3 linked regions of the Homo sapiens genome follow. The protein of the gene in region 2 purifies or fractionates together with the protein of the main gene of each other region. This does not show direct contact. Each region holds a gene or a part of one and is shown on either strand. Other genes may lie near its edges. The genes, in order: ZNF235, SERTAD4 and DCX.

What was found.
Region 1: the proteins of SERTAD4 (region 2) and ZNF235 purify together in Homo sapiens (affinity purification with mass spectrometry; one large-scale study listed by BioGRID and IntAct). This does not show direct contact.
Region 3: the proteins of SERTAD4 (region 2) and DCX purify together in Homo sapiens (affinity purification with mass spectrometry; one large-scale study listed by BioGRID and IntAct). This does not show direct contact.

Annotation. Positions count from the first base shown.
Region 1 is NC_000019.10:44,298,434-44,302,088, reverse strand, and holds part of ZNF235 (zinc finger protein 235), read left to right. Parts: intron 1-2,356; coding exon 2,357-2,483; intron 2,484-3,185; coding exon 3,186-3,281; intron 3,282-3,655. UniProt on the Homo sapiens protein: May be involved in transcriptional regulation.
Region 2 is NC_000001.11:210,242,796-210,246,910, reverse strand, and holds the end of SERTAD4 (SERTA domain-containing protein 4), read right to left. Parts: 3' UTR 1,112-4,115; coding exon of another isoform or gene 984-1,111; 3' UTR 656-983; downstream 1-655.
Region 3 is NC_000023.11:111,328,676-111,332,330, forward strand, and holds part of DCX (neuronal migration protein doublecortin), read right to left. Parts: intron 2,367-3,655; coding exon 2,229-2,366; intron 1-2,228. UniProt on the Homo sapiens protein: Microtubule-associated protein required for initial steps of neuronal dispersion and cortex lamination during cerebral cortex development. May act by competing with the putative neuronal protein kinase DCLK1 in binding to a target protein.

The sequences.
Region 1 (3,655 bases), on a different chromosome or scaffold from region 2:
AATTTTAGTTTCAAACGAGCTAGATTTCTTTCTTTAATTCTAAGTAAAACCTTGTATTATAGTTAAGTATCTGTTTTATTCATTAACATGTTATTATATTTTAAAGATGCACATACTTAGTTTAAAAGTCTTATAGCACTAGGAGATTCACCAGGAATTTGCACCATGGAACAGCTTTGTGAGGATGTAGATGGCCTTATCTGTATTTTAAACATAAAGAGACAGGTGTGAACCTTTAGACACTTATTGAAGTCCACTCAATGCCCAGCTGACGTTAAAGCTTCCAGTGCCTAAGCCAGAAGTTTCAGGTGTTCCATTTGGGTGAAGGCCAGGCACAGTGGCTCACCTGTAATCCCAGCACTTTGGGGCTGAGGTGGATCACTTGAGGTCAGGAGTTCGAGATCAGCCTGGCCAACATGGTGAAAGCCTGTCTCTACTAAAAATACAAAAATTAGCTGGGCGTGGTGGCGCACACCTGTAAGCCCAGCTACTCATGTAGATGAGGCAGGAAAATTGCTTGAACCTGGGAGGCAGAAGTTGCAGTGAGCCAAGATCACACCACTACACTCCAGCCTGGGTGACAGAGTGAGACTGTCTCAAAAAAGAAAAAAAAAAAAGAGACTATTCAGGGACTTGAGGCTATGCTACACATGTATGTGTCCCTGGCATGTCCTGGTGGATGAAGGGCTCCAGAAATCACATTGCTCTTCACCAGATTCCCTTTCTCAGTGCATGGCTCTTTGCCACATGTGTCATCGAGTTGTTTGGTACATAGATGTTCAGAACTCCAGCCAAAACAAATGCAGGGATGTGCAGTGTCTTCAGATAAAAAATGTTAATTTCCATACAGAAAAACACCATATACAAACTTTATGAGACAAGTAGGAAACAGGTGCGGGGTAGGAATTTATATATTCTAGAAAATGACTTAATATTCTTAATAGTAATGTTACTGATACATGAAAAATCCCAGTAGGATTAAGGAAAGGCAATATGTGAAGAAAAGTAATATCAGATCATCTTTAAAAAAATTAAATAGCTGTTTATATCACTCACCAAATTACTCAAGATTTAAAAAAAAAAATGTCCAGTTTTGGCCAGAGTATGGAGAATCGGGAATACTTATAATCTCTTACGGGAAGAGTTAATTGAGAAAATTAACATTATACCAGCAAAACAAAGGTATATATATTTTTTTACAATGTAATTACCACTTCTTGGAACTTACCTTTTTTTTTTTTTTTTTTTTGAGACGGAGTCTCGCTCTGTCATTCAGGCTGGAGTGCAGTGACATGATCTTGGCTCACTGCAACCTCCGCCTGCCGGGTTCAAGTGATTCTCCTGCCTCAGCCCCCCGAGTAGCTGGGATTACAGATGTGTGCCATCATGCCCAACTAATTTTTGTATTTTTAGTAGAGACAGGGTTTCACCATGTTTGTCGGGTTGGTCTTGAACTCCTGACCTCAAGTGATCTGCCCGTCTCGACCTCTCAAAGTGCTGGGATTACAGAAGTGAGCCATTGCCCCCAGCTGGAACTTATCTTAAGGAAATAACCATACGAGCTGGCTAAGATCTATGTAAAAATATGTTTTCTTGTGGCATTGTCATTTTTAAATTTAAAATGATCAAATGTGCATTATTTAGAATGGTTAAATATATTGTAGATCATGTTTATGGACTATCATGCAGCTATGAATGGGATGAAATAGATGATGGTGATGATAATAAGAGTTAATGATCAACATTTATTGAGTACTTACTGTATGTCACACACTGTCCTAAGTTCTTATATGTATTCACTCATTTAATCCCTTCAAGGACCCTATGATATAGGTCCTCTTATACAGATGTGGAAATTGAGGTTTTGTGACCAGCGTCACAAAACTAGCAATGGATAGACCCTTGGAATGTGAACTAAGGCAGTCAAACTCCAGAGCCTGTACTCTTAACCTTGACCCTAAATGCTGCTGCAGTTGACCAAGACAGCATGTTCCTGAGAACCCAGAGAGTGAACTGCGTACTTGTGCCAGAGCTTTATGAAGGCCTGTTGGATTGACAAAATAGTGGTAGTACTATCAAACACTGTTGGGAAGAAATTAATGCAAAATTTCTTATCAAATTTGGTGCTATCAGTCAAATGGTAAAATGTGTGTATGCCATGATTTAACAATGACAGTTCTAGGAATTTAACTATATAAAGGGCACCACGTTACATGTACAAGGTGTTTTCCTTCTTCCCCCTAGCATTTTTGGTGTGATTGTGGAAGGGGAAGAATAGTAACTCTACAGAAAGAGTTGCTTAGGTGCCAGTGGCCATTGGGTGTGAGATTGAGGTTACATGTGCTTGATGTTCTAGGAGGCAGTGACATTCAAGGATGTGGCTGTGGCCTTCACTGAGGAGGAGCTGGGGCTGCTGGACTCTGCCCAGAGGAAGCTGTACCGAGATGTGATGCTGGAGAACTTTAGGAACCTGGTTTCAGTGGGTAAGGACAGGCACCCTCTGTAATTCAGCAGGGTTTCTCAACCTCCATGCCATTGATGTTTTGGGCCAGATAATTCTGTGTTGTATCAGGCTATCCTGTGTATTTTGGGATGTTTAGTGGCATCCCTGGCCTCTGTCCCCTTGTTCAAGGCTTTGGGACTGCTCAGAGACTAGAGTTTTTCTATCTCTTTAGAGCATAGAGACAAGATGTTTCTGACCTTTGTTCCAAGACAGATGATTTTCTTTTAGACATGAACTATAAAAGAACAGTTGAGCTTGGCTCCTCCTGATTCCTTATTTCGTATATCTTTTTTAAACTTGTGGGTCATGATCCATTGGTGGGTCAGTAAATTAGTAAGTTACATAAGCATTTTTGTAATAAAATAGAGTAACAATATCAGAGCCCCTTAGCCAGAATGGTGCACATTGTGGCAATAACTGCTGCTGCTTGCCGTAAGGGATGTGATGAAAACAGATATTGATTAGAAATAGGTCCTTTAACCTTTTATTTCAATAGTTTACACAGGGTAATGTATTTCCAGTGATAGTAAATGTATTTCTTATAATGTGTCATGACAAAAAAAAATGTTCCCTAAACATTGCATGCTGGGGCAGGGAGGAGACTTACATCATGTGATTGGAACCAGATTTTTTCAGTACTCTTTGCCTTTAACATTTTCACTTAAATACTATCTTTTTATAGGACATCAGTCCTTCAAACCAGATATGATATCCCAGTTGGAGAGGGAAGAAAAGCTTTGGATGAAGGAGCTTCAAACCCAAAGAGGTAAGCATTCAGGTGAGTACTGTGCAGCCGGAATCGTAGTTAACAGCTGTTATTTTTCCTTTATTCAGGATAATTTCTTCTCCACTCAGCTACCTGAGAGACTTTTTTAAAAAACATCTGTCATGGTTGGGCGCGATGGCTCAAGCCTCTAATCCCAGCACTTTGGGAGGCCTGGCAGGTGGATCACTTGAGGTCAGGAGTTCAAGACCAGCCTGGGGTCTTTAACATAGCAAAACCCTGTCTCTACAAAATGTAAAAAAATTAGCTAGATGTAGGTGTGCCTGTAGTCCCAGCTACTCAGGAGGCTGAGATGGGGGGATTGCTTGAACCTGGGAGGCGTGGGTTGCAGTGAGCTGAGATCTGCTACTGCATTGCAACCTGGGTGA
Region 2 (4,115 bases):
TTTTATTCGATTTTCATATTTTTAAATCAAGAGAAGAGTCATAGAAATGGGGTTGAGAAATATAAGAAATTTCATGAGAAACAACTAATACATCGCCATACATTCTATCAGTTTCATTGTGGTCAAAAGCAGGTGTTTCCACACTGTGAATAAGTAGTTTGCATTTTCAAAGTTAACAAATTGGATCAACAACAAAGAAAAGAAACCAACCATAGACAGCCCACCAGCGGATTGTTTACCAAAGAAGATGAAGCTCATGGCGATGGTTTGCAAACACCACCAGACTAGCTTGTGTAAATTCCCTTCGTTTAGTCATCGTTCTTCAGCCTGTCACAGATACTGAAGGGAAATGCAGAAACAGGAAATTACAGACTATTTTAAACAGCATGTTTTATTAAAGTCACTTGCTGATGCACTTTATGGCAGGATGCGAGATTCAAGTGTTCATAACTTACATCTTTGCAAGTGCTTTTCCTAAGTGAGTTCTCCCAGCTCAAATATGGCAGGTACCCAAGGCTGGGAAATAATCTCCAAACTAGTAACTCTTTCACCCCAGGTCGTGTAGCTATATCACATAGAATTGAGACATTTTAGCCATGTCAAGATAATATACCTTGCTTAGGCACTATAGCTAAGAAAGCAACAGAGAGGCATCTTGTAGTAACTTAAAAGATCCTTAATGCATTTATTTTAAACCACAAAATCAAAATACAGCAATCTTAAAATGAATCACTATAAACCATACATTGTCTCTTCTTTTATTATTTAAATACTGATATCATTCTTCTCTTCATGGGACAGTTCTGCACCTAGTTTAAACCATCATTACTAATGCCATGCTGAATGCTTGTCTCTGAAAAAATCTAGTAAAATTGGCAGGGATGTGATAACCTTAACTACAAATGAAATAACTTCAAATTTAAGGGGCTGTCAGAAAAATGGAATTTCACAACTAATTATTTCCAAAAAAGTCTCCTGCTCACCATTTGTTAGAAGGATATAAAAACCTAGCTGCATCACATAGGAATCCTTGTATCCTTGTCTTATATTTGTTGCGAAGTTGATGTCTCTTAATGGTCATGTCTTCTACAAGTTGTCCTCTGCTCTGCTCCTGATACACAGAAAGGAAGTCACCAAGTGGAGCTGTAATACAAGTTCATAACTGGAGGGGTGGGTAGCCATGTCTTGATGGAGTTAACTATGAGCTCTAAAAATAAATACTTTCATTCCCTTGCTTCACCATTTAACAAAGAAGCATGTAAAATGTTCTAAATTTCTGTTGTCTTAATAAAAGGTCACGCCAAAGATGCTTTCCCCTAATTTTCAATTCATTGCCAGGTAGTGGCATCTGCTGGTTTTGAATTTTTCTGTCTTCCTCCCATGTCCCCTGTCCCTGCAATCCTGTCCCTAGGACCCCTGCAAAGTGAAATGTAGAATAATAGGATTTTGAGTGGAAAGATGATGATGAGACTTTTGCCCTTTGAAAATCCCTTTGCCAGACCACCTTCTATAATCTGCTGTTTTTAGAAAGGAAGGACCAGAGACAAAGGTTAATGATTTCATTAATGATATGCACCCAGATGCCTAGGGGAATAGCAATTAAAGGCACTCTTGGGGAGCAAGGCAACTTTCTTAAATGAAGATTTCCCCTCATTTATCTTTTAATAGTCTTGATTCTGTCATATCAGGTTTTCCTTAAAGCAGAGCACAGCAATGAGAGAAGGTGCAGCTTCCAGGCGCGTAGATACCAGTGTGGGTGGAGGATGTCTTAGCTTTTCCAAGTTGCTCGAGATAAAACTATAGAATCCAGTTAAGAGATATAACTTACTATGAAGGGTGTCCTGGCCACTCTAGGAAAATCTAATGGAATATCTCATGCATAAAAGACAATGCTGGGTGCATGGGAGGTGAACACAGGAAGTCCTAGCACTCTCGCCTACTAACAAGAGAATTTTTGTGGTTTGGATGGGTGTTTAGGAATTAGTGTTTGGTGAAGAAATTTTTTTTTGCAATGCTAGAAATATCCTGGAAACAAAAACTTGATGACTAAAAAGAACAGATTTTTATGCTGCTGGATTCAAAGGCATCACTTATCCTACAGAGAAGTGATTCTAGTGGGTTCTACCGAACAGGTGCAGGCGCTCACAGCTCAGGTGAGTGCTGCTGAAAATCACCAACTTTGTCATTTTACAGCTTTGGCCTTCAAGAAAAACACTATCTAGTAATGCTGGGGCTTTTAAAAAGCAGAAGGATAAGTCCTTTCGTTCATATTTAAATCTCCATGAGATATTACACTCATAATAAGAATGCTACATTTGACAAATTAATTAGTTTTTAACTAGCTTTCCCCTTTATCAAATATTAGCTCCTAAGAACATTAATATGGAATTGTATGGAATGCTACTAGCAATAATCTGTAGCTGTTATAACTGTTTACATATGGGTCATCTTCACAGTTTGACAGTTCATAATGCAATCAGCTAAGATTCAGTATTTATGGCTTCGTGTTATACAATTTTTTTCAGAGACACTCCAGAAAGGAAAATCTTTACATTCTTTCAGACATAACCTTATTGATCACCACATCATCTATTAACATTGTGCTTCTTAATCAATAGAAACTTAAACTTACGAACTAGGATCATTCTGAAACACCTGTCAGATTGGCATTTTAAAATACTCTTTAATTTAGAAAACTCCTGTGTGGCCACTATCCACTACAGTTTCTAGATGTTTTGAGTTTTTTAAAGGAGAGAGAATAATGGAAAAGAGAAACATAGCCAATAGCCATTAAAATTTAAAAAACTTAATGAATTTTTATCATCTTAATAAATATATATCAAGAAAACCTCACTTTATTACAACACATTCATATACAAGCATCTATTAGCTAAGTTTTGAACATCAAATGTTTATCAAATATTGAAAATAAAGGACAAAACATTACTAGACTATTTAACTATAACACAAGAAAATGTTTTAAAAATTGGTCTTTGTGGACAATTGTCCAAATGATCCTACTCATACACTGTATGAATGAGACCTATATTTAATATTAATAGCAATAATAAAAAAAGCTTTATCTTGGAGAAACTGGGAGGGCTTACTTATTTCCTCCGTTTGGCATTTGGTTTCTGTGAAGTATTATTTGAACAGGCCCAAGTCAATTAGTAAACTTGGAAACTGGAATACAGTTTAGCAGGAAGAGTTGGCTGGAGTGGAAGGAAGGATGGTAGGAGGGCCACTCTGAACACTTTTCAAATGTACAAGTTAAAGATATTATTTGGAAAATGTAGACCAAATACATAGTAACTATTATAGATTAAGTCCCATTTCTCCAAAATAACTTTCAAAAACCTAAAGTCTTTACATTCTTTAAGATAAACCTTATTGATCACCACATCATTTATTAACATTGTGCTTCTTAATCAACAGCAAAGTTCATATATAAAAACCCACATGCTTTTATAATCTAAACAAGTGAAATGATGCAAAACAGAGAAAAGTATAATGCATGCCACTGGTTCGTGAACTTCATTGGACAAGAAAACAAAACAAAACAACCCAAAACCCAGAAAACCCCAACCCCAGCAACACACAGTTGCCATAGAAAAGCTCGAGCAGCCCGTGCTGCTTTCTAACAGCTCTCTCTCTCATTTCCTCCATCCCTATTGAAAAAACGGCGAATCCAAAAGCAATTGGGCATCAAAAATAAAGAATAGAGATGTCGAATCAAAAGCTGAACACAATAGTTCAAAGTTAACAGTTTCCAAACCATATTGATCCACCCTGTGGTTTTTTTTTTTTTTTTTTTTTTGTCCTGTTTGTTAAATCCCTGCTGTAACTCTGATTTATCCTTAATTTTCACATTGGCAAAAATTAAGATAAAAGTAAGGCACCAAAAATCGCCCTGTATAACACCTCTCTAAAAGCCTCATCACCCATCACAGGCAAGCCAGAAACTTGCAGGGAATACCCTCTCTGTGTAAGACTGTTGATTGCCGCCCCTAGACAGGTGTGTTTCATTATGTTACATCCTATTTTCATCTGTCACACAAGACTGTTAGGTACAAATACTTAACAGCACCATTAAGCCATTTCATCTAGCTCCCTGT
Region 3 (3,655 bases), on a different chromosome or scaffold from region 2:
AAAGGAGAAGTGACAGTGTTGGCTATGGAGACTAGATCACAAAAGGCAATACATCTTGTTCTTTATTCATTCTCTTGGATCACAAACTAAGGTAGGAGATCTTGCCAACAGCCATATTGTAAGTGGATCCTACAGCCCCAGTTGAGCCTTCAGATGACTGCAGCCCCTACTAATATTTTAATGATACCCACATGAGAGACTCTGAGCCAGAACCACCTAGATAAAACACTCTAGAATTTCTTGCCCACCAAAACTGTGAGATAAAAAAAAAATGCCTTTTCTTTAAGCCACTAAGTTTTGGGGTAATGAATTTGTTTCACAGCAGGATACAAGTAATACAGGTTAGAAATCCCAGAAATAGCTACTGCTGTTTCTGAGAAATGATTAGCTAAGCAATTATTGCCAGACTTTATTAATCTTGACCAAGTGTTTTAAAGTGTATTTTTTGCAATTCTCTGCTTAAAAACTGTCAAATTTTATTCTCAGCCCAGGTGTTAAAACCTAGGTCTTTGTAGTTTCAGCAATATAAATTTGCTTAGATATAGATTTATGTGCTCTTCTGTACATTTGAACAAGATAGCATCAAGGCACATGTATTTTTTATTTCTTCAGCAAACATTATCTAAATGCTTGATTGGTCTCTAGCACCATGTTGGGTAAAATAGGTACTGTTGTGCATCTATTTATTCACAAATATTACTGGAGCATCTACTAGGGGCCAGGCACTATGCTCTGCACTGATGATATGAAAATGAACCTACCACATTACCTTTGAGGGGCTCAGCATTTAATTGGGGAAGTAGACAGGTAAACACATACTTGACAACACAGTGTGGTGAATATTACCCCAAAGATATGAATGGCATGCTATGGTATTGCAGAGACTGGAACAATTATCTCTATGTGAGGTCTTGAAGGATGAATAGGAGTTTTCAAGCAAAAAAGGCTGATGGGTTAGAGGATGGCATTCCAGGTATGGGGGAACAGGGAGTGCAAAGACATGGAAGTACTAAAAGCCTGGGTTGCCTTTTCATACTTTAATTTCCTCAACCCAAGAATAAAGAGATGGCTGGTAATATGCATGCTCCTGGCAGTCTGATGCAGGCAGTACAGGCTATTCATCTTGGCACCAGCATTTCATAGCCATCAGGCTACTCATGATGCCCCAAACTGAAGGGCCCTTTTGTTTTCCCAAGGCTCTCAGACTGCAAGAATTCTCATGATAAATTCTGAGCCTTGGGATGACAAATGTATAAGTATTTTGGACCATATAGTTTCCTTAGTGTGAAGAACCTCAAATTGTGCATAAATCTAAGCTTCTGAACTTGGACTTCTAAGGCCTTTTATTTTTGATATTTGTTATAAAAGAATGGAAGACATTGCCTCTTAGATCAGTGTCACTCAAACTGTGGGTCCAAGACAAGATAGGGTTCACATCAGAATGCAAATCAACATACTGCTGCCTTCATCAATAAAATCAGGCTCTGAAAAAAAGGCAGCTGAGCTAAATGGTTTGCTTAATGGCATAGTTTATTTACATTTGGCACAAGCTCCTAATCTTGCCACAGACTGACTGGTAATAAATAGTTCATGGGTTGGCAGTGATCAATAGACGACATGTTTTAGATAACTCACTATCCACTAAATAGAATCTTCTATGGCAAATCTCTTTGTTTTCTTTTAGAACCTGGTCTGTGCTTTACTTTCCGGTTGTGAGGTTTATACAATTTATCTTGTCCCCCTATTTATATGGCATATATATGTAGTGTACTTGTTTCCCTTTTTGTTTTGGCTTCTAATTACTTCAGAGTCAAATTTGAAGCTCAAGTGAGTCAACTATGTTGACACTTTGGGGTGTTGTTTTTTATATTCTTTTTCTTGATTCTGATTTTTAATTTCAGGTTTATGGTTAATTTGATTATTCCATTGAATATGTTTTTGCCACATGATGTTGAAGATGATGAAAATGATGACAACCATGAAAATAAACATTACAGCAAGCATAGACAATGGGCCAGGCTTCTGGTTTGCATCCATTTGAATGGAATAATGGTTGTAGCTGTGCCTCCATGACTCCAAACAAGTTTGACTGTTTTAGTCCCTGAATTGATAGAATAGGGTTTCATGGAGACACAGTGGTGTTCATGAGGAACTGATTCCTCTGCATGCAGAAAGTATTGTCCTCCATAAATGAAGTCAGCGTGCACAGTTAGGAAAAGAGCACTCACCGTCTTGGTCGTTACCTGAGTCAGCTGGAGACTTGCTTCGGCGCATAGGACCAGGGCTCTTGGCTGAAGTCTTCTGAGGTGTTGGGGATGCCTTTGGGCCAGCTGTGGCTGATGGGTTTCCCTTCATGACTCGGCATTCTGGGGCAAAAGGACACAGACAGCTTAGTAGAGGATAAAACAGGCTCAGCATGTTATCAGCCTCTGGAAACCGCAATAACCATCACAGGCCAAAGGACCTAAATGGGTCAGGACTACAATGTGGTCCTTATTATTAGTAGGAGCCATGGTTCTGGGGAGGGAGGCATTAGGGAAACCTTCAAAAGCCACCTGGGCTAAGCTAGGTGTTTAAGCCCCTGAATTACGAAAACAAGGGCAAGAGTCCATAAACAGGTCAAGTAGGCAATTAAATAGTCAATTCAATCATTTATGGACAAGCTAGCTATGTCTCAGAATAGCACCTATTGATATAATGTTTAATTAATTTCCCTGAATTAGAGATTAACAACTCAGAGGTTACAGCTACACAGATGAAACATCCATTGAGTAATTTGAAGGAGAGGTAGAGAGCTACCACTTACTATTACATGCCACACGTTGATAGACACATGATGGATATCATGTCACTTTATATAAATAAGCACTATGACCACCACCATCTTGCATTTATCAAGTTCTTTTCGATTTCCCATGTATGTTATTGCCATCCCTTATGGGGGGTTAATGAATAAATGGGCCAGCAGTGACTCTGCCACTAAAAACTTAAGAAAGCTTGCTGGTGTGTGGGAGAGTCTGCCAAATGTTCTTGTATTTGCCCTAGCCTCAGTCTGACACCTTTGGAACACCCTTTCTATGCAGGTCACTCAGCATCCCCTTCTATGGTCATTTTGGGCACTAATAGTGCTAATTTATTAGAAGGATTATTATTCTCATTTTGCTGATGAGAGTACAAAAAACTTAACCCCTTTGCCTAGGGCCACAAAACAAGAAATTAGTAAAACAAGGTCTAAAAGTCAAGTCCCCTGAGTTCCAGTTTAGTGCTCTTTCTACTACAGTTTTTCCAACCTTGTGCTGTGATGCACAAAGGGGAATCAAACAGCAGAGTAGAGGATATAGTCTCTCCTTTCCTTTAAACACTTTCTTGTTGCCTCCTACTTAAAGGTGCATTGAAATATAAATTAAACAGAAAGATTAGAGGAGCTTTTCTGGTAAATTGAATATTTTAGGAAACTGAGTTAAGCAGAAAGCCCCCTTTTGTTTGTTTCACTTCTTGTTTTGGTTGGTGACCTTTAGTGATCACTGTCCAGAGCTGAAGATACAGAAGGTATAGGAAATTGGACATAACCTGAGGTTTGTTTAGCTATTCTATAGTCATTGCTTCTTCCTAAAGGGAACACAGCAGAAATGCCACCTCTTACAGGGTTCTTGTC